2 linked regions of the Homo sapiens genome follow. The protein of the gene in region 1 purifies or fractionates together with the protein of each later gene. This does not show direct contact. Each region holds a gene or a part of one and is shown in the gene's direction. Other genes may lie near its edges.

The links.
Region 2: the proteins of HEMGN (region 1) and MNDA purify together in Homo sapiens (co-immunoprecipitation; one study listed by IntAct). This does not show direct contact.

The regions. Positions count from the first base shown.
Region 1 is NC_000009.12:97,928,124-97,931,779, reverse strand, and holds part of HEMGN (hemogen), read left to right. Parts: intron 1-558; coding exon 559-1,745; intron 1,746-3,656. UniProt on the Homo sapiens protein: Regulates the proliferation and differentiation of hematopoietic cells. Overexpression block the TPA-induced megakaryocytic differentiation in the K562 cell model. May also prevent cell apoptosis through the activation of the nuclear factor-kappa B (NF-kB).
Region 2 is NC_000001.11:158,844,844-158,848,499, forward strand, and holds part of MNDA (myeloid cell nuclear differentiation antigen), read left to right. Parts: intron 1-743; coding exon 744-1,160; intron 1,161-2,884; coding exon 2,885-3,073; intron 3,074-3,656. UniProt on the Homo sapiens protein: May act as a transcriptional activator/repressor in the myeloid lineage. Plays a role in the granulocyte/monocyte cell-specific response to interferon. Stimulates the DNA binding of the transcriptional repressor protein YY1.

The DNA.
Region 1 (3,656 bases):
TCATTTGATATATACTGTAGCAACTTAGAATTCTTTACACAAAATAATGTATTTGATAATCAAGCCATATACAGCATCCACCTGCAGGCTGCACAGACGAGGAGCTGTGCCAGGTCTAGAAACTCGATTTGTATGAGTTTACTCAGGGGTAGGGAAGTAACACACAAAGACTAAATGCAAAGAGACTAGTGTATAAACCAGAATGCCACTCTATTAATTTGTAATGAGAATTATTTATTTTCCATAACAAAACTTTAAGAATATGCTATAACACACGCACGCACGCATACGCGCATGCACTACCCTCACCAAGAAGGCTCCTGGTAAGCATGGTATCAATGCCACGAAGTCCTGGAGAAACATTCCCTCTCCTAAGAATTGAGAACATCTAGAGCTGCTCCTTCATTTTACAAACAAGGAGATTGAGGCCCAGAGAGATTAAGTGACTAGTTCATGATACTTGTGCAATGAGGCAGTGGGGGACCTGGCACTGTTATTACAAGCATTTATTTGAATTCTGTAGTACCACTGCTGACACTAATTCTGTTCTTTCTGCAGAGAACAGAAAAAACGCAAGCAGCAGAGAACAGGAAAAGGAAATCGAAGAGGCAGAAAGAGACAACAAAACACAGAATTGAAGGTGGAGCCTCAGCCACAGATAGAAAAGGAAATAGTGGAGAAAGCACTGGCACCTATAGAGAAAAAAACTGAGCCACCTGGGAGCATAACCAAAGTATTTCCTTCAGTAGCCTCCCCGCAAAAAGTTGTGCCTGAGGAACACTTTTCTGAAATATGTCAAGAAAGTAACATATATCAGGAGAATTTTTCTGAGTACCAAGAAATAGCAGTACAAAACCATTCTTCTGAAACATGCCAACATGTGTCTGAACCTGAAGACCTCTCTCCTAAAATGTACCAAGAAATATCTGTACTTCAAGACAATTCTTCCAAAATATGCCAAGACATGAAGGAACCTGAAGACAACTCTCCTAACACATGCCAAGTAATATCTGTAATTCAAGACCATCCTTTCAAAATGTACCAAGATATGGCTAAACGAGAAGATCTGGCTCCTAAAATGTGCCAAGAAGCTGCTGTACCCAAAATCCTTCCTTGTCCAACATCTGAAGACACAGCTGATCTGGCAGGATGCTCTCTTCAAGCATATCCAAAACCAGATGTGCCTAAAGGCTATATTCTTGACACAGACCAAAATCCAGCAGAACCAGAGGAATACAATGAAACAGATCAAGGAATAGCTGAGACAGAAGGCCTTTTTCCTAAAATACAAGAAATAGCTGAGCCTAAAGACCTTTCTACAAAAACACACCAAGAATCAGCTGAACCTAAATACCTTCCTCATAAAACATGTAACGAAATTATTGTGCCTAAAGCCCCCTCTCATAAAACAATCCAAGAAACACCTCATTCTGAAGACTATTCAATTGAAATAAACCAAGAAACTCCTGGGTCTGAAAAATATTCACCTGAAACGTATCAAGAAATACCTGGGCTTGAAGAATATTCACCTGAAATATACCAAGAAACATCCCAGCTTGAAGAATATTCACCTGAAATATACCAAGAAACACCGGGGCCTGAAGACCTCTCTACTGAGACATATAAAAATAAGGATGTGCCTAAAGAATGCTTTCCAGAACCACACCAAGAAACAGGTGGGCCCCAAGGCCAGGATCCTAAAGCACACCAGGAAGATGCTAAAGATGCTTATACTTTTCCTCAAGGTAAGGGCTGTTTATAGCACCAAGGTAGGTACATCTCCCCCAGAGTAGTGATTTACAACTTTCTCTGACAATCCTGGGTATTCCCTGTTATTTCAATGGATACTGTGAATTTCATTGACTAGTTTTAAGTGAACAATATTTTCATGCAACCAACGTCTGTCTTGGCATATTTCAAAGAGTTAAAAAAATTGAAAATGCAAGCATGTACATTAAGTACTTATTCATACTATCCATCCATTATGAGATGCTATAGTCAGTGAAATGAACCCAATATAGGATGAATTATTGCAAAATATTTTTAAAAATTAAGTCTACATTAACAAGAAAGCTTGATGAATGAAGTTTTTCTAGGAAATTTAATTTGCCTGATAAATGGAAAGCAGGTAAATTCATAGTACGAAGTACTGAGGGAGATAAAAGCTGTAAAATATAATCCTGTTACTAGGGAATTCATTCTTGTAGGATTTATCAGGTTTACCAAAAACCCTTTCTATTTCAAGATTTGTTCCTGAAAAACTTTTTCCTAAGTATAGGAATTTGAAAATAATGCAACCTTTCTTTAATTTCACTTGCCTCAGAGACATAACTGAGAACTTCAGCTCTCTTTGTACAATACTGTAGACAGTATAAGAAATGGACTGAGTCTATCAGACCATAGTTATCCCCAGGAAACTGATTTCTAAAGAAATCCCTTTAGTAGTTTACTTGCTCTTTATCCTAAAAGATGAGTGCAACAAAAACATGGTGCTAGTTGGTTTCCAAGTAATACCAGTTTTGAAGAACTACTTTAAAGAAATACATTGCAGCAAAAGCAGGCATGTGAAGCAGTACGTGCACTGACAGGAGTACCCTGCTGGAGAAGCAGCTCTAACCAACACAGCGTCCTGATTCCTAACTGCTTCATTCTAAACCCAGCAAGGTCGATATGGTCAATTAATTAACGCTTATTTTATTTTTGGCTTTGTTTGACCAAATAAATGGGAATATCTATTTTTCCTGATTATAAAAGTAGTAAGTGTTCATTATAATAAAGCAATATGTAAGTGAATATCAAGTAAAGTAAAAGTCCCCTATAATACCATCTTCTATCTTCAGTTCCCAATGTTAAGGTTGTTTTGTTTCAACAAATGAGACAGTACCCATCCTATCCTGTAACTTGTTTTTGTTTTCATTTACAATATGTATTGCAGCCATCTTTATGATGTCTTTTGTAACAACTGCATAGTACTGTGCTATATGTATATTCAACCAGTCTCTATAAGGATGAACACTTAGGTTACTGCCAAGTTTTACTATTACAACAATGTTCAATGAACATCATTGGGAATAACATTTATTTAGTTAACATTTATCTGGTACTTTTCTATGTGCCAGACACCATATTAAATATTTTATGTGGTTTATTTTATTCAATGTTAAAAGCTCTACTGGATAAATAATACTCCCATTCTAAATATAAGGAAATGGAGGCACTGGAGGCTGAAGTTTGTCTGATTATTTCCTTTGAATCAACCCCTAGAAATCAAATTGTTGGGCCAAACGGTACCCAAATTTAAAGTTTGAATATACAGTCAGTCAGACTAGCCTCCAGAAATGTGGTAGCAATTCACACGAGACAGGTGCCTTTTCCCCACACCCTTGTCAGCACTGTACATTATGACATTTTAAAAATCCTTGTCTGTCTGCTAGGTTAAAAAATACACTTGATCGGCCGGGCGCGGTGGCTCACGCCTGTAATCCCAGCACGTTGGGAGGCCGAGGTGGGCGGATCACGAGGTCAGGAGATCGAGACCATTCTGGCTAACACGATGAAACCCCGTCTCTACTAAAATTACAAAAAATTAGCCGGGCGCGGTGGCGGGCGCCTGTAGTCCCAGCTACTCGGGAGGCTGAAGCAGGAGAATGGCGTGA
Region 2 (3,656 bases), on another chromosome or scaffold:
TGTTGATTGTCTTTGATAATTTCAGTAGGTAGAGGAGATATTTGGATTTGTTATTATATTCTAATCTTTCTTTAAAGTTTCTTCACAACAATGTTTTCATCATCTGCTACTCTAGATTGTTCATGCAGAAGATCATGCTTTGCTTCAGGAAGATTATTCTGAGTCAATGAGGGTGATTTAATTTCCAAGCCTGTTGTCTGTTACCTTAGGCTTTCAGTAGCTAAACTTTACCAGCTCATGTGCCTTTCCTTTCTGTTCAGTAATCCCTGTCTAGCCTAGCCCCCAGCTCCAAATATCTGTGAAAGTTGTTGGGTCGAAAGCTCTGCAGAGTCACTCGTGCAGAGTGACTTTGTATTCCTGCTCAAAGTTTTTGTTGTTGTTTGTTTGTTTGTTTGTTTGTTTGTTTGTTTTTGAGACGGAGTCTCGCTCTATCGCCCAGGCTGGAGTGCAGTGGTGCGATCTGGTCTCACTGCAAGCTCCGCCTCCCAGGTTCATGCCATTCTGCTGCCTCAGCCTCCCGAGTAGCTGGGACTACAGACGCCCGCTACAACGCCCGGCTAGTTTTTTTTGTATTTTTAGTAGAGATGGGGGTTTCACCATGTTAGCCAGGATGGTCTCGATCTTCTGACCTCGTGATCCACCCGCCTCGGCTTCCCAAAGTGCTAGGATTACAGGCGTGAGCCACCGCGCCCGGCCTCCTGCTCAAAGTTTTAAGTTTATTTTCTTGTGTCTGCCCAACACAGAATCAGGAAACCCAGGCCCAACGGCAGGTGGATGCAAGAAGAAATGTTCCCCAAAACGACCCAGTGACAGTGGTGGTACTGAAAGCAACAGCGCCATTTAAATACGAGTCCCCAGAAAATGGGAAAAGCACAATGTTTCATGCTACAGTGGCCAGTAAGACTCAATATTTCCATGTGAAAGTCTTCGACATCAACTTGAAAGAGAAATTTGTAAGGAAGAAGGTCATTACCATATCTGATTACTCTGAATGTAAAGGAGTAATGGAAATAAAGGAAGCATCATCTGTGTCTGACTTTAATCAAAATTTTGAGGTCCCAAACAGAATTATCGAAATAGCAAATAAAACTCCCAAGATCAGTCAACTTTACAAGCAAGCATCTGGAACAATGGTGTATGGGTTGTTTATGTTACAAAAGGTAAACCCTTAATTTTGTTTTAATTTTCTCTACCATTACCTGGAAATAAATGTCTTAATTTGCCAGACTTACTGTCTGAATATTGGAACACAAGAATTTATATTGACTAGAGATAGTGATGAAGTTGTCCCACAAAATAGGAAATAGGACTAAGTGACCTATTAACTTTCTTACGCCAAAATAAATGTAGGGACTTTGAAAAAAAGTTAGTAAGAAATATTGGCAGTAATGATCTGTTGTCAGCCACAATGAACTAGGACAATACAGGGTCCAAATCAACGGGAGCAAGCTAATAACATCATCTCTTTCAGCTCCATCCCAATGAGCACTGATAATTTTACTGTGAGTTTTGATAAATTTATTTTAAGTAATGAATTGTGCTACCAAGGTTGAATTCTGGTTGTGACATAATTTTGGAGTAATAAGTGGATTGGCTGGTATGCTCATAAATGCAAATACATTCAACAGCTATCCATACAATCTAAACATTTGTGCTTAGATCAGTTGCCCTTCTATCTTATTTATTTATTCATTTATTTATGAAGATAGCATTGAACAACTGAGAAATATTGAATTCCATGATACTTAAAGGATAAGGCAATCTCTTCATACTATTTACAAAAAAAAAATAATTCCAAGGCACAGAGTTTTATTGATATGTCCATGTCCAAATTCAAGATGCTAGTTAGGATAATGCATTCCATCCCTTTCTCCACTCTAAAACATTACACATTTCTATGAACTCAACTAACATTTTATATGATTGACTGCTTTATAACCCTACATACATGTCTTTCAATATAGCCCCTTAAATTTACCTCCACATTTTCTCACACTCTCTTTAAGAGATCTTGCTTATAAATGCAATTACAGAATTGATGAGTAATAGCTTAAGTGTGTGAAACACTACAGAGTATGAATGGAGGGAGTTAGGTCAATGGGGACAAGATATTGGAAAAGAATAAGTAATGAGGAAGGCTGAGAAAGAATGAATGATTGTGTTATAGAAGATTTTTCCTTTAAAATTTCTCATAATCTGAAGTAACTCAGGAGTGGAAAACCAAATATTGTATGTTCTCACTTGTAAGGAGGAGCTAAGCTATGAGTACACAAAGGCATACAGAGTGATCTAATAAACTTTCAAGACTCAGAAGCGGGAGGCTGGGAGGGAGGTGAGGGATACAAAACTATATATTGGGTACAATGTACACTACTTGGGTAATGGCTGCCCTAAAATCTCAGAATTCACCGCCATATAATTAATCCATGTAACCCAAAACCATTTGTACCCCAAAAGCTATTGAAATTTTTAAAAATTAAAATAATAATAAAGTGAAATTCCTCATAATCTACTGAATGAATAATTGTAGAAAGCATACATTTGTTTTTCCACAGGACCATGAGCCAAGAAGTTCTATAGGAATTTTTGATTCCTCTATATCTAGGTGCTTTATTTACTCTCAGCTGATCTGAAGGTGGTAGCAGGAGAAAAAGAGGGAAATATTTATTGTTGTATAATTGCAGAAAGAAAAATACCTTAAGCAGGAAAAAAAAATGCTGGATAATAAAAGATGGACCCTGTGAGATGGCAGGCCAAGCCACATGTATGATCTGTACCTGTCATTCCTGTCGTGCATATTGCATTAACTTTGTCATGAGACTCTTTCTCATCTATATGATACTAACAATCCTCTCAGAAACAGGATGTTAATCTTCTTTTGCAGAAAAGCGTACACAAGAAGAACACAATTTATGAAATACAGGATAATACAGGATCCATGGATGTAGTGGGGAGTGGAAAATGGCACAATATCAAGTGTGAGAAAGGAGATAAACTTCGACTCTTCTGCCTTCAACTGAGAACAGTTGACCGCAAGCTGAAACTGGTGTGTGGAAGTCACAGCTTCATCAAGGTGGGAACTGGATAGAGGAGAATGAGTTTGCTAAAGAGGCAAATAATTTTGCTTAGGCTTTGGGAACACCAGGTTCCTCATGTATTACTCAGAGAGTCCAGCGAGTGGAAGGAGAACCTAAACAATGCCCTTGCATTTGTAACTGGAAGATTTTCAGAAGGATATTAAGGTAAAGGCATTCATACAGCTCTAGAAAGGATACAATACTAGTGTTAATTGATTTAAAGATGTGTCTAGCGGCAGGGAACATAGGGCTCAAGAGCAAGGGTTCTGAATAAGACAGATCTGATTTGAATCCTGGATTTAAGAAGCACTAGTTGGCTGATATTGGGGAAACAGTTTCATTGGTCCTCTAAAATAATGGAAGTCTCCACTTCATTGGGATGGTTTAAACATTCAGACAATGTATACATATTAATTATCTCACAACCTGGCACATCATAATAAACTGATCTGTGGTAGATAGTTTTATTTTTAGGAAGGTAAAAATTGGAGGGACTTTTAGGCAAAGGAAATGATACATGAAAATTCCAAAAGTGTGACATAGCGTAATGAGTTCTGTACAACTGAAATTCAGTAGATG